Regions from separate parts of the Homo sapiens genome. Here region 2 is linked to region 1. Evidence: fine-mapped expression QTL. A gene starts in region 1. The other region holds a variant in brackets. All regions are shown on one strand. Distances are from middle to middle.

Evidence for each region. PIP is the estimated chance that this variant, and not a neighbour inherited with it, causes the effect. A credible set is the group of variants that fine-mapping cannot tell apart.
Region 2: its variant is the best candidate, but not a certain one, in a credible set for the expression of ADGB in testis (GTEx, PIP 0.61).

Annotation. Positions count from the first base shown.
Region 1 is chr6:146,595,277-146,603,626 of GRCh38, forward strand. ADGB (androglobin) reads left to right here and starts at 3,696. Exons shown (of 36, transcript NM_024694.4): 1 at 3,696-3,838. The coding sequence starts at 3,765. It overlaps ADGB-DT (ADGB divergent transcript), which reads right to left and starts at 3,655. Exons shown (of 3, transcript NR_125860.1): 1 at 3,557-3,655; 2 at 2,794-2,895; 3 at 1-1,228. RefSeq lists a silencer at 3,497-3,791.
Region 2 is chr6:146,766,622-146,774,971 of GRCh38, forward strand. ADGB (androglobin) reads left to right here. Exons shown (of 36, transcript NM_024694.4): 29 at 2,399-2,510. It overlaps LOC105378040 (a long non-coding RNA gene), which reads right to left and starts at 4,532. Exons shown (of 4, transcript XR_943093.2): 1 at 4,474-4,532. The variant A/G (reference allele first, on the strand shown) is at 4,809.

The sequences.
Region 1 (8,350 bases):
TTGCTTTGCCTTTCTAAAGCTCATTTTCTTCGCTATAAAATGGGCAGAGTTTCATACTTCATAGGGTTGTGATCACTGAAGGTGTCAGAGGCAGAATAATGTGGTTATAAAGAGCATGGGTCTAGAGCCATGAGTTTGAATCATGCCTGATCACTTACTAACTTAATTTAGCCACTCTTTGCCTATGTTCCTATTTATAAAAGAGAGATTATAATAGCAAATCCCTAGGGTGTTTGTAAGGATTAAGTGAATTAATACAGAAAAATAGCTTAGAAGAGGGTCAAGCACATAGCAAGTGCTCAACAAATGTAAGCTCTTATTATTAAGGGTTTAGGAGCTTCAAAAGTGTGAATGAATTTGGTAGAAGAGGAGTTTTTGCTTTGAGTGACCCTACAGTCTAGTAAAGGAGAAAAAACAAGGCATAAGTATTAATAAAAACAAGACAGAATATTATAGGAATTTTAAAAGATGAACAAATAAAGTTCTGTGGGAAATAAAGGAGAAGGGTGTAAATTTCCATGGAAATGTGAAAAGAACAGAACTTGAAGTGACAGTTAAATTCAACCTTACACAGAACATGTAGAATGCATACTTTCTCATTTGGCTGGTTAAATTCCAAGTAATTTTATAATTGACCTAATTGCAAAGAGGTAGCTGAGCAGCAAAATATATACAATTCCCTATGGCTGTGGAATCAAGTGTCTGAAGATGGAGTTATGGATTTAAGAAACAGAAATGCTGCCACTCTGCCCACCCCTGCCATCTCCCACCCAGTTCCCTCCATCTAGGATTCCCATTGGTGGAGGGAGAAGTGGTTGCCAATTCTCACTTCCCTATTTAGGCAGATCCTCAAGCAGAGAGACTCCTGCCTGTTTTGTTTCTGCTGATATGGGGAAGTGGGTACCTCTAACCACTTCCCTAGGGAGCAGGCGCTACTGCTGCCTGAAGCCAAATATCTCTTCCCCGAAAAGGAAGTATAGATTAGAGAGAGGCCCTATTCTGGGTAGCTTGAATAAAATATAAGCCCTGTTTCTCAGTCTTTGACAGTTGTTAAATAGCAAGAGTTTGGAAATCCCTAAGCTCAGTCCCAGGGCAATCATCTGTATGGACAGTTAGTCCAGAGAATTGGAGAGAGCACAGGTTATGGAGTGGCCAATCTTCCTCTGCCACCTACCACCTGCTCCATGTCAGGCAAGTCCCATTTCCTGTCTGCATTTCAGTTCTTTACCTGTGGAATAATAACATTAGCTATAATTCTCTGAATGCTTGGGATGAGTCAAGCATATTTGAGGTATTATTCTTCCCTTTCCACAAATAAAGAAAATGGAAGTTAAATAACTCACCCATAATTACCCAACAAGAGTCAGGATTTAAATTCAAGTTTATCTCTAAAGGAGTTAGCACCCTTCCCTAAACCTTGCATGTAGTAGGTACTCAATAAATCACAGCTATTATTATTATTATTCCAAAGTGACATTGACAACAGTTATAAGAAAAATAAAAACAGCAGTAGGACCTATTGTCTTTTTTGCACTGCCACAATAAATATCATGTTAAGCTTTGTAGCTAGAACTATCTTAGAGAGGAACAGATTTGCTCTTATAATTACAGCCTGACCAGAACCTTAGCTCCAGAAAGAAGAGAAATTCCATTTATGCATGTTGCACTCTTAATATAATAAAGGAGAAAGAACACTGGCGTAGGAATTAATAGGCAACTTATACTCGTCACATCTTTTATGATTATCTTATTCCATTCTGGTGACAACCCCCTTACTTTATCCTAATTTAATAGATGTTTAAAAAGCAAGCTCTGAGTGGAGTAGTGATATGTTTGGCTTAAACTGGCAATGCTGACTTTAATGTGTTTAGTCCAAATTCCATCAATAAATAACCCAGCAACTTTTGGCAAGACATTTTGCTTGTCTTCGCCTGGAGTTATTTGTCCATAAAATACCGGTGGGATGTAGATCTTTTGATTTCTAAGGCTTATCTTCCCTAATTCTTTTGGCATCTTGCAGCCATTAACAATGGCTGCAGGATAGCCCTTGTTCAAGAAGAAACTCACCTCTCTGTGGGGTTGGCTGCTTAAAGTTGTGCTGTTTTCAGCCAAGAGTCTTTGTATATACTTATAGCTATAAATTTGATTACTCTGACAAAATTTGGTAGTAAATAATTTTTCTCACCATTTAGTCCTCTACTTTCATTCAAGAGAGTTCTCTGGAAATTTGAATTATGGTATAAACAAAGCAGAATCTTCATGATGTGTTCATTGTCTTTACATATATAGGAGATGTTTGCAGGGCAGTCTTGTAGTCATAATATTAACACTGCTGACTTGGAATTTATTTATTTTGCATATAGAAATACAACGAAGGGGCTGTCTGTCATCTAGGTAACCCCCAGTAGTAATCCAATAGTAATAAGATTGGGATAGTCTGACAAACCATAGGCTATGCTGAGTGGAGAGCCCTGAGCATTCATTTGTCAGAGAAGTTGAAAGATTTTCTCTGCAGGAAGCTGCCTCTTGCCTGCACAGGTGGAACTGTGAGCATGTGCCCAGTCCCATGAGTGGAGGGGATTTCTTTTATTTAAAGATACTTAACTATTTCTAGGCTCATGAAAGACACCAACCAGTAGTAGTGGTCCTAGGCCTAAGGGCTGTGTGTCAGATATCTCTGAAGTGAGGTTATATTGAACCAACACAATATTTTGTTTTGTTTTGATAAATTTGCAAGCTCTTGCAGTCTAAGCATGTCTCAGTTAAGCATAGTATCCACTACTCTGTATTTACCTGGCCAACTTCATTCATTCACGCTGTCTGCTGCTCCTCGAAACCAGGTGGTCTGTCATCTCTGAAAGAGTGGCTCCTATTTGCTGCGCTTTGCATCTTATCCTCAAAACAGAACTGTGAGTTAGGTATAACTCCTATTTATAAGTGAGTAATAGGCATCTCCTATTTATAAGTGAGTAAACTGAGACTCAAAGGGAAAAACTAGCCCAAGGCAAGATAACTAACAAATCACCACTGATGACTGAGCCTTAAGCCTGCGCCCTAATAAGTTTCATTTTACTTGGTTCTGTCTGTGTCATCTGGCCCCTGGACCTTTTCTGGAAAGTCTGCAAAGGACCACCTGAGCCCATGACTTGGACTCACTCTTTCATTCGAACAACAAGACACCTTATTGGTTTTATTACAGATATCATCACCTAGCCCTCAGCGACTCAAGGTGTCATTATTTTGCCTTCCTTACACCCACTGTGTTAATTTCTGGACCCCAGGTTTTCAAGCCATTGACAATTTCAGCGTGTCTGTAATGTCTCCTTAGTAATTATTGAAGGTACTTGTTATATTTAGCCAAGAGAATAACTGGGGTGGTACTAGGATAACATCTACGTTCAAATAGTTGGATATTCAAGAGTCGATATATGTCTATGGTTCCGAAGGGCAAAGCCAGGCAGTGTAGGTCCTGCAGAACTCCAATTAATCAGGGCTGCCCAGTAATCCTAATGCCAAACCCGTGCCCCAGAACCTCGATTTCTCCCCAGACACCAACTCCAAGTTCCTCCACGGGGATGTGGGATTTCAGTTTATGCTCTTGCGTCCCTCTGCAGCCACAGGCCGCAGAGCCCGCCCCCAGGGCCCCGCCCCCGCTCTCCGGGCGCTGGACGCGGGACGCCGTCTCCTGGCAACGCAGACGCGGAGCCGAGCGCGCCCGCAGGCTCTTTGCTCAGAGCTCAGCCCTACATAGATCGGCTTCTGCCATGGCCTCCAAACAAACCAAAAAGAAAGAGGTGCATCGTATCAACTCGGCGCACGGATCGGATAAATCGAAAGAGTAAGGGACCTCTGCCTGTCCGTCCCTCCCCTGGCCTAGCCCCTCGACCTCACCACTAGTTCTGGGGCTGCCTCCCTGCAGCAAACTGTGCCAGGGCAGAAGTTTAGTGGCCTCCTCGCAGCTTGTCTTCTCTGGTAAACCAGATCCTGGAGGTGCTCGCTCTCATCCTTCTCTCTTGCTTGTCTTGACTCACTTCCTTTCCCAGAGCCCCTGATTTTCTTGCTTTGGGTGTTCAGCTCCCATGGGTGAATCTGCCACCCCTCCTCTTCTTCATAGCCCTCTCAGGCAGTTAGAAAGGCCATAGCTTTCCTAAGAAAGAGGCATATCTCAAATACTTCTGGTTAAAGCCACATCTTCATGGCCCCGGAAATGATACAGACAGCGAGTGACAGACAGACATGGACACATTTCACCTTAATGGTGATTTTCTAGTTTGCATCTGCCCAGTCCAACGACTACGATCTTTAATCAGATATAGTCAGACGTAAAGTGGCTTCTAAACCTTAAAACATTATAAATGTATAGTTCATGTTACTAACATTTACTCTGAGAAAGTAAACAGACCCTCGCTCATGGAATTTTTATGGTGCCTTTGTCCTGGGCTGGTGTTAGGTGTTGTGTCTTAGGATGTACTTCCCCATGATTATTATTTTCTGTGGTCTGTTTCCCTAGGGATATCCAGTTATCCACAGCATAGGATTGGGGCTGTTTGAACTTACACCATTTCTAATGTTCATTCCCACTGTGAGAGAATCCCAGCTGCCCGCCCTGCTTCAGTGGGATCATTCATGTTCTTCATGCTCTGCCTGATGGGGAGGGCGATGCAATCAATCATTTCAAATTGAATTCTTACATCCTTGATGCCTGTTTCTCCATTTCCTTCCCTGGCTGAAGAATTCCACATTGGACTGATCCCTATGATTCACTGATCCCTAGGATTTAAACTCTTTTTCTTTGTGAATTCTTCTCCCAGACTCATTCCCATGTCTGTGAATCTCTAGTCCCTTAGTTCTAACCTCTCTCATAAGCAGGTTTCCAGTTACCCGGCAGATAATCCATTCCTTTTACTAGCTTAAATTTTAGATATTACATATATAAGTAATATTACATATATAATTTTATATAAATATTACATATGTAATTTTAATAGGATTGCTTTACTTCTGTGTACCAAAGTCAGGTCTTTTCAGCGTTGTCTAATGGCTTCCATTCCTCTAGGTCCAAGGCCGAGGACGCCCTTCAGAATCAGGCCTGTATTACTTCTCTAAAGTTACCTTCCACTAGCCTTCTCTCCACTCCCTGAGTCATCTCAGGATTGTTCCCACCGCAGGGCCTTTGCACTTGCTGTTTCCCCTATTGGAAAGCTTTTCTGCTCAAATATCCATATGGTTTTCCCTCTCCCTTCCTTCAGGAGTTTACCTAAATGTCATTTTCTCCTGTTAGCTTCTTTGGCCACCTGATTTAAAGTTACAACCTCTACTTCTCTGCCAAAATAAAACAAAACAAAACAAAGCTCCCTGTCTTCCTTCACTGTTTTATTTTTTTATTGACTTTTATTTTTTTGCTCATTTAACATGCTATATATTTCACTTTTTAAAAACTACATTTTTTTTTTTCATTTGTCTTCCCAATAGGGAAGGCAGGGATTTTCCTTTTCTATTTTACATACTGTTGAATTCTTAGTACTTAGATAGTTCCAAGATCATACATAGTAGGCACTCAAAAGTGTTTAGTGAATGAATGAATGACTCTCTTAACTAGGAGATATTAAAGGATTGCAAAAGAATTTTGAGTACACCCCTCCCCCATGCGCACACACACACACACACACACACACACACACACACACACAAATAACTAAGTCACTGATGGTTACAAGTAATGCACATTGAAGGCTCACAACTCTTTAGGAGCTTCGGGAAAATCTTGGACTTTAATGAGTTTATATCCTGAAAGAGATGTGACTGTTAACTCCCATAAAGAAACTTATCAAACCAGACACCATAAAACACATTACTTGCCCTGATCCTTTGATGGTTGTATTACACAATGGAAACTAGATCCCCACTGGTAAGATGCAAACTCTCTTCTTACTAAGACTGTCTATTTCTTTTTGAGATGGTAATAAATGTCTAACATGTTTTTTTTCTAGAAAATATCTGAATTATATCAATAAAAATGTATGCATACATTTATGAAAATAGAAGAGGAAGGGCAAAGAGTTATTTTTAAAAAGCTAAGATTTGTTAGAGACTATTGAGCATCAAACACCAAATCATTAGATTTTTCTGCAACATTAAATAATTGGATGTTAAGTTCATTATAAATCAAGTCTATCCTCTAAGTTTAACTGAAGAACTAATCACAGAACCTAAGCTAACCCATAGATGTAGGACAAAGTGTTACTCAGTATGAGGCGTAGGGATCAAAGTCTAGCAAGGCTCTAGTATGATTGTTATTTAAAATACACCGGGAGATTTAGAGTAAGTTTTTATGTCATTTTACCACACCTTGTGTTTACATATCCAATAAATGCGACCAACTCTAACATGTTCCTGGATATGGAAATAAAAGAAAAAGTCTTCAGAGCCTTGAAAACGGCTATGCAATAGAATCTTACACTCCTAGAGATGCCATCTCTGACATCTCTCTTTTGCCCTAAAATTATGTGTCAGACTGGGAATAAGTGTCATGTTTGGCTTTTGCCTCATATGTCAACTAGCACATAAAAAAAGTCACCATGTGCTTACTAAATGAGCTCATAGTTTTGTTATCCACCTTGGTTTTCATTCCTTCTGAATTTGATCGAAGCCCAATTCTCCTTCTCTTTCCTATTTGATCTGCTATTGGCAAAGTTCAAAAACTGAGATGTTACAACTGATTACGGTAGAATCATCTATGTTCATATTCATAAGTAAATATAACTTTGAATCACCAAGAAAAACTATTCCAGGTAACTAAGCTGTAAGTTTTTACATTAGATTAAACAATTTCTATTTTATCTATTTCCTAGTTCTCTGTATCTGCCAGTATGAAATCACTATTCTAGGGTTCACTCTGGCATCAATTTTTTGACAACGGACAAGTCATTTTCTATTCTGACATTTAGTTTTCACTTCTTTAAAGGGAGGGTCCTTTAATTGAAATTGCTCTTACCCCAGCATGTCCTGTTCTCCCTTCCCTGCTTTATATTTTCCTCCAGTTCTAAACTTCCATGATTCTATCAGATATATTTTTTAACTTCACTGGGTCCATAATAAGTGAGGGGATTTTGTTACAGTAAAATGTTTAAAACCATGGTTTAACTGATTGTTCTGTTATCATCTTTTAACATAACAATTTTTAACGTAAGATAACTTTAACATAACATCACAACTGTCACAGATTATAACTCATTGCCAGTATCTTAGTTTGAGCTGCTGTAACAGAATACCATAGATTGGATAGGTTAAACAACAAACATTTGTTTCTCACAGTTCTGGAGGCTAGAAGTCAACAAGCAGGGTGCCAGCATGGTCAGGTTCGGGGAAGGCTGTCTACGTCAAGGGTCCCCACCCGCTGGGGCTGCGGACCAGTACCAGTCCATGGCCTGTAAGGACCTGGGCTGTGCAGCAGGAGGTGAGAGGCAGGGGAGTCAACATTTCCCCCTGAGCTCCTCATCCTGTCAGATTAGCAGAGGCGTTAAATTCTCATAGGAGCGCAAATCCTATTGTAAACTGTGCATACAAGGGATCTAGGTTGTGTGATCTTTACAAGAATCTAATGCATCCCCCTCTCCATCCATGGAAAAATTGTCTTCCACAAAACTGGTCCCTGGTGCCAAAAAGGTTGGGGATGGCTGCTCTACTTAATTCACAGACATCTGTCTTTTTGTATCCTCACATGCTAGAGAGAGAAGGCTAGTTAGTTCTGTTACTTTTCTTATGAGGACAATAATCCCATCATGAGGTCCCACCCTCATAACCTAATTACCTCCCAAGGGCCCCATGTCCTAATACCATTCCATTGAGAATTAAAATTTTAAGATGTGTATTTTGGGAGAGGAGACACAGATATGCAATCTGTAATATAAACTAATAACAATTAGCAATTATAAACAAATTAAATTAATTGATCAATCTAATTGATTTGAAAACTAATAAGTGCTACAAAGATTCATTCACCAATTAGATGCCGCTGGAGGGATTTGTAGTGATATCAAGACAAAAATTTGATCTTCTTGGAAGTACTAAATATAATTCTTTGTGTATATCATAGACAAGATAACAGAGACAAAAGAAGTCGTGCAGTTTAAGTATTGACAGTATTAATGCATACACTTTATACACTAAAATACTTGGAACCTTAATGGGAAGCTTGAGATAGGGACACAATTTGATGTTTATACTTATAAAATTTTTTTCACTTCCAAAAGGACATTCAAACCAAGATTGAAAAACAGGTAATCTGTTAAACTAACAGGAACCATATAGCCTTGTAGATTTGTAATTATAAAATAATATTAAGCCTTTC
Region 2 (8,350 bases), 170 kb after region 1:
AAGTCTTCCCTTTCCAAAAAACCATAGGCCCCCTTTTGGCTTTATAGGATAGGTCCAATAGACTTTTAAAAAGTAATTTCTTACGGAAAACAAACAATATAACTTTTCAATCCTTTTTAAGAAATTAATGTAATCCTGATTTCAAAACCAGATAAAGGTAACACAAAAAGGAATAAAATGTATTTATAAACATAGGTGATAAATTGCAAATAACATAATAGATATCCAATTCTAGCAGTGTATTAAGCAATCAGACAGAATTCTTCTCAGAAATTCAGAAATCTTTTACCATTGGAAAATCTATCAGTATTAGTCACTACAGTAATACACTAGATGAGAACAATCATATAATCCTGAAACATTTGACAAAGTTTAACACCTATTTATGGATTTCTAAAATGTGCTCTTAGCAAACTAGGCATAGGAGAGAACTTCTTCATCATAAATGTTACATGCCAAAAATTTTACACTTAATGGCCAAATCTCATATACAAAACCATTATACTAATGTGGGAAGTGTAAGTGTGTTCCTATTAAAATTGGAATAAGAAAAGAATGCTTGCTATAATTGTTAGTATTTAATGATACTGAACTATTATGATAATGGAAAGCCACAATGATACAAAGAACAAAATAATTAAAAGATTATTCTAAATAATCATTGAATTACTCACAGATAATATAATCATATGCCCAAGAAAAAACAACAGAATAAACAAACTTTAGAACTAAGAGATTTTGGCAAGATTGCCAAAGACATTAATAGTAATAACTAATATATTGACTTACTTATTACTTACTATGCACCTGATACTATGTGCTTCACACATAGATCTTGAATTCTCCCCATCAACTTTTTTCTTTTTCTTTTTTGAGACAGAGTCTCACTCCATTGTCCAGGCAATGGCGTGATCTCAGCTCACTGCAATCTCCACCTACGGGGTTCAAGTGATTCTCTCGTCTCAGCCTCTGGAGTAGCTGGGATTATAGGCACATGCCCCCACACCCGGCTAATATTTTTTGTATTTTTAGTAGACAAAGGGGTTCTCTACCATGTTGGCCAGGCTGGTCTCAAACCCCTGACCTCAGGTGACCCACCCACCTCAGCCTCTTGAAGTAAGTATTCTTATTATCTGTATTTCACAGTCAAGGAACCTGGAGGACAGGAAGCTTAAGTGACTTCCTCAAGGCCAAACAGCTGGTTTGTGCTAAAGCAGGACTTCAACCCAGACAGCTCTAGCTCATGAGGTCATGCCCTTAATCACAATGCTGTTCTGCTACTACAACTTAAACAAAAATCAGTAGTGTTCCTCTACACCGGCACTATGCATTAGACATCAGAATATGATGCCTTTAATAATAGCAGCAACAAAATCAGAAAACACCCAGGAATTAACCAAAAATATATCAGTTTTCCACATAGAAAAGCTTAACACTTGAATAAAGGCTACAGAAAGTAACCCAATCCACTGATGGACACAGATGACTTGAATAAATAGAGAAGCATTTCATGCTTTTCAGCAAGATGGCATAACAGTATAAAGATATGTTATCCTCAATCTGCCTTTAAATTCAATGCAATCCCAATCAAAATTCCCACTGTATTTTTCTGAAATTTTCTAAAGATACTTTAAAATTCATAGGAATGAATAGCAATTCACAAATAGCTAACGGAACTTGGGGAAAAAAGAGCAAAGTGTGTCTTAGTATTTCCAAAGACAAAAAGATATAGCAGTAAAAATAGTATTAATTAATGCATACATAGGTAAATGGAACAATAAGAGAAAGTAAGATAGAAACAGATCCATATTTTTATGAAAATTTCATATAGAATAGAGGCAACACCATAAACCAATGAAGAAAAGATGGACTATTGAGTAGGTTGTACTAGGAAAATTACATCTCCATGGAGAGAAATAAAACTAGATCACTAGCTAACATCATACATAAAGGTGAATTCCAGATATAGTGAACATTTAATTGTAAAATTTTAATCCCTAAATATAATAATAGATAATGTAGGAGACTATTTTTTTCTGTGTCATGATCACAAAGAAGAGAAAACCCTAAAGGCCAACAGCTTTGAAAAAATACTCAAACTTTATAGTAATCTTAAAAATGCAAAATACAATAGCAGTGAGATTTCACTTTATACCCACTGCACTCACAAAAATTATAAAGTTGGGTAGTGGCAGGTGTTGGTGGGGATGTGGGGCTATTAAACTTTTATAAAGTGTAGCGTTACAGAGTTTTGGAGAACATCCAGCATGATTTAACTAAATTATGACTGTCTGATCTGGAAAATTCTGCATTTATCATGTACCTAGCATAATAAATGACATTAGGCACATACCATGTATGTTCTTATCATTTTTAAACACTGCATTTTATTTCACAGAATTACAAGTATATTATACAGTGTTCGGTGTTGTATAACAGTTGGCCTCTCACTGAAAGCCAGCTGACATTTGTTCAAGCACTGAAAGACTTAAAGAAAAGTAATACCAAAGGTATGTCACCCTAAATGTTTAAACATGCACTTTACATTTGAATAAGTTGATATTTAAATATTTAATAATAAATTGATTTAGTCATGAAAATATCATTGTATGATGTTTTATTACACATTATAATTTGTACTCTATATCCTGTTACATTTCCTGTTGTGTTAATTGATTATATGTTTCAATATTTTTACTGCCTGTTTTATAAGGAAAAAATATGATTAGTTAGATGTAATGTAAGCACATTTTGTCTAGTTAATAAAAATTACTAATTGATTATACTTTTGAACATTTCAAAAATGTATGACATTTTTCTATTTATAAAATTATATTTGCCCATATTTTTTGAGAATATATAGCATTAAATACAAGCTTTTAAAATATTTCACAAATTCTTCAATTCCAGAAGAATAATTTTCTAGTGAAAGAGTACTCTGGTTTATTTTTTCAAAATATAAACTACTCTAGTATTCCTGGCCAGGAAGCTTGTTGCTTTCAAAAAAGAGAATCAAAGGGAAATCTCCAACAGCTTTATATCCCATTGGGCAATCTAATAATTGAATCTGAAAGAATGTGTATTTTCTATTTATGTTCTCTTTCAAATTTAAGCTAGATTGCCTAATCATAAAATAATATATGCATGTTATTTTTAAAATAAAATAAACCCATGCAATACAAAAGGGTATAACATAAAATGTAAAAGCCTCCATTTCTTCCTGGGTCCCATTAACCTGAGTTCAAACACTTGATGGTAGCCACCACCGAAGTGGGCTTTGTCATCATTCAGAATTTTTAGTATACATACAACACGCTTATGATAAGACGTAAACTCTTAGTCCTTTTCGTCCTCTAAGAAACAGTAAATTTTATCTATTATTTATATTCCTCTATTAGAATGCAAGCCCCTGAAGAATGAGGAGTTTTGTCCATTTTCACCTGTTTCGTCCCTTGCATTATCCCTAGTTAGATCCCATATGAACAGTAAGCACCCCACAATATTAGCTGAATGAGTAAATGGAAGGATACATGTAAGCTATTCCTATTATTATTACCCTTATTTATTAATTGCCAACAACTCTGTTCAGGCGTTTGCTTGCTTCTATTATCTGCCTGGACCTGATCAAGAAAGAGCTTAAAAAGGTTTGTGTGTACAGAAGTTAAGAGAAAACTGTTATTGCCAGGCTTACTTTATTAGAAGGTATAGATTCTAGTATGTGTCTTAAAATTCAAAGAAAAGCTATAAAAATGTATGACACCAAGAGTTCCCATTTCCACTCAAATGTATTGAGTGTGCTTCCATAGCAACGCATCACACTGCCGAAATTCCAACGGCATCGCACTGTGCGGCCTCTTCTGAGGTTCCTCTCTCATTGGGCAGGGATGTGTTCTTCCTCGGTCTCATCATTGCATCTCTAGCACTAGTGGGAGATGTCAATAAGTGTTTAATGAATGAATGCATGAACATGCCACACCAGTGACCTCAGGTATGTGTAAATCCTAATGGCATCCTGGCCTGCTGTGTGGGCAAGATTCTGAGGCTGTGTTCAGGCTCAACGAGAAAGTTTTGTGATGTTTTATCAATATTCCACGTAGACACAGGAAGAGAAAGTGGTAGCACTGGGGCCACAGAGTCGCCGCCTCTTTGCTGTTCGTGTGTGGTATGTGGATAACTCCAGAGCAGACAATGGGGTGTTCAAACCTTGTTTTTTGAACGAGTGGCTGTGCTACTGCTCCATAGTGTTATACATAAAAACACTTTCGCACATTCCCTGGATAGTCATGGAATATGAATTTTGCCAAAACATCTGCCCATTCTACTTCAACCTCCCCTCCTAAAGCCAACACCCCTAACAGCCCAGCACACTGAGAATGTCTGAAACAGCAGACAAGGCTTCGATCTCATATTCTTGCCTACTAGAAGAGAACACAATTATTCTGTGAGTAAATGTCATATGAAAGCCGCAAATACCTTGCAGGCCACGTCTCAAGCCGAATACGCCCGAATACGCCTGTTGATTCCCTTGTTGTGGTTGCACAGGCGGTTGGCTTTGGCAATCACTTCCTTGCAGCTTGTTCCCGGATGCTGTGTTTCCGGCCCAGTTCCCTTCTCTGGGTCTTCAGCTGTGAAGGTTTCCTGGACCCACCTAATGTTGCCTAACCCTGTGTTATGGATTATCTACTGCTGTGAATTTGAGCCCTTTGATTATTTTGCAGTTGACCACCCACACCCACCAAGTTCTAATGGAAAATAAATGAAAAAAAAAAATCAGTTGTTTATGTTTATTTCTCTTTGCATGTTACCAT[A/G]TTCTCTTTCTCTATATGTTTTTCCCGTCAGGTTGCCACTTTTGTTCTCGCTTAAAGTAACCATTACCCTATTCCTACTTCCCCTGTGGTTCAAAGCAAAATCTCTTAGCTCATACCGTGCCCCCGCCCCTGGCCCCTGGCCCCCACCATTCTCTGTCTTCTTTTTCTCTATCAATTAACAGAAACCTGTTTGAAATAATGGATGGTACAAATCATGTGGTAATTTTGTGTTCCCCTACTGCAAAGAAGTAGATAGAGTATATGCCTAATACCAGTGGAATTAAATATTTTATGCTAAAGATTTAAGTGCAAATAAAATATTCACAATTATAGAAATCAAAGAATAAAGAAACAGCACAGTTTTGTATGAGCTTGTGTGTTCACCAAAGCTATTCTCATTTCCACTTTGTTCTTCAAGTTATAGGACTGGTAGATTTTACATTACATTTCTGAGGATTAAGAATTTCAATGGATCAGAGAATGACAGCCAGTTCTGATTTGTTTTGTTTTGCTTTTTGTTTTGGACAGTGTGGGCTTTTTCATGAGTTGCCTGTAACTCTTTATAATTCTGATTTCTGTATTATAATAGCGTGTTATACCTGTCTCAATAAGCTCAAAATAGTCATGCTACTGTTGTTTATAGCAATTATAAATTATAAACCCAGATCCATATGACAGAAAACAAATAATCTCATCATAAATCATAAAAGGAAAACTACAGAGCAACCTTGCTGAATTCAATTGAAGATCTTGCTCACAAGGAAAACCTGTTTCTGAATAATGTTTAAATGAGATTCATAAAAATGTGCAATCATGAAGAGGTATTTGTGAAAAAATTTTAAGCTTTTCAGGGAAAAATAGCATCACATAGTACAATGCTATTGACTAGAATTGCTTTCTCCCAATTCTCTAAAGTAAACTAATGTCTAATATGGTGCAAAAGAAAAATATCTCAATACTATTAAATTTAGTTAAATATATATATTATATTTATTATATATATATATCACACAGCTGGTTGCTGGCACAGCTGGGAATTCTAATGGAAATTAAATTCCATCAAGGGCATTTGAATGGGGAAAATAATAATATACAGTAGTACTGGTTTCACGTCTTTATTTGTGTCTCTGATAGAGGGCTGTATTATGGTTTTTTCCTATATTAATATGTAATTATATAATATATATTATATATTATATTTATATCATATGAAATATATTTGCCTAAATTTATTTATTATATATAAAACAATATATACATAATTTAAATACCTGTGTATATTTTCTGTGATAACTAGAAATTTGGTTTCAGTACTTATATGTTGAGTGTGTTATGTAAAATTTTGTAAATTTGGGATATTTAGAAAAAAAAATGACACCTTGAAATGTGTGGAGGAAGTGAGGGTAAAATAGTTTGTATTATACAAGAAAGTCTTGAAGGATACCAAGCATGAGAAATAAAGCTTTGCTTTGGAAGTAGAAGTAGCGGGAAGGAGAATGTGTCTCAGGCTATACGCAGGAGCCAGTGCTGGACTCACATCACTCACAGGAGCACTTACTGGGCATCACGTGTGCCTAAAGAGGGACTGATTCCTGCCAGAGAGCACAACATGAGGGACAGAGCAACAAGGAGAGTATCTGCACATAGCTCACTATTCAAGGCCATTCCCATTTCCTTCCACATCAGAAATGGTGGGGAGGAAAGATTCAGAAATGTTTCCTCTCACTTTAGGTCACAGAAATTCATAATTATTAATATTAAGACTTCATAACGTTAGACATTAGTGACCCTAAATTACCACCTCTCTTCAAAAATACATAAATGCGTAGAAGAAGAAAAGGCATACATAGAGAAAAAAAAAAGATCGTACATACCAATTAAAGTAATTAGTTCTGGATGTTGAAATTATTAGTAATTTTACTTTATCACTTGTATTTTATATCTAGAAACAAGTTTTAATGAAAAATATATAAATGGGAAGTTTTAAATGAGCACATACAATTTTAATCAGGAAAAAATATGGTACTTTTTAATTTTTAAACAAGAAAAACTCTGGAGAGACCTAGAAGTTTAATCACTCTAATTATAATTGAGTGCTATTATGTCCATCTTACTCAACTTAGTAGTTTTCATGCATTCTTCTTAATTCTCACAAAAACTTTGGGAAGTAGTTATTACCATCCCAGTTTTACAGATGAAGAAATGAGCCTTAGATGCTATGAATAATTTGCCTAAGTTTGCATAGGTTCGAAGGAGCAGAGTGAAGGTTCTAACATAAGTCTGATTTATTCCAAAGCCCAGAATCTTCCACCATATCATGTAAGCTCTTTAGATACTCTAACAAGTTGTATTGTCATAATAGTACTGGTGGTAGTGGTGATATTGATGGTACTGGTAGTAACTGCTAACATTTATGTCCAAGAAGGGCTTTACATATATTGACCCAATTAATCTTCCCAATAAACTTATGAGGTAGGTGTTATTACTACAGCATTGTCATTTTACAGATGAGGGAACTGGGATACAGACAGTTTAAGAAACTTGCTCTCAGTCACACAGCTAGTGACTGGCACAGCTGAGAATCTAATGGAAATTAAACTCCATCTAGGGCTTTGAATGGAGAAAAGTAATAATATACAGTAGTACTGGCTTCATATCTTTACAGTGTCTCTGAGAGATGTCTTTATCTATATTACTTTAGTGAACACAAAAGTAATATAAAGACGTCTGTCAGATATATATGACCCATATTGTTTTTCCCTGTTAATGGGTAACTATTAAGATTCTAGTGGAAAACTAGATAAAAACATTAATATCTGAAATGAACACAGTAGTTTAATTCATGAAATACAATAATGTAAATATGTAGAATTGGGTAATGGTACAAAATTAATAATATGAGTGAACACTCAACAAAATGGTATTATCATGTATTCCAAAGAAAAAATAAGTCTTCAGAAAATAATTACGTTTTCTTTCCTGATATCACATTTGAAAATTTTATGTGTGAATGACCAGCTGCTAAAATTAAATTACACTTTGGATTACATAGTATGTTTGTTGCTGAAAAGCAGCAAAGAAATTCAGAATTAAATTGTATTTAAAATGAAGTAGGAAAATTTTCTGTTTGAAAGAATATTTTGTTGGGCAATCTTCTTGAAAGTCAAGCAGCTTTCAAATTCAGAATAATTAAGTCTTTAATGTCATGTTTATAAATATTTAGTCAATTTGATTAAAGCATGTCTATATGTCAGCTGCTATGTATCAATTATATATACAACTTAAAATCTACCTGCTCTGATTTGAAGTGCATGATGTATTTCACACATCAGTTACTCCATACATAGAAAAATTACATATATAGAAAAATTCAGTTACTAATGTCTTTAATTTATCCACTTAGCTTACTTTGGTTTTTTTGCAACCTCCTCCTCCTGGGCTGAAGGGATTCTCGTGCCTCACCCTCCCAAGTAGCTGGGATTACAGACGTGCGCCACCATGCCTGGCTAATTTTTGTATTTTCAGTAGAGATGGGGTTTAAC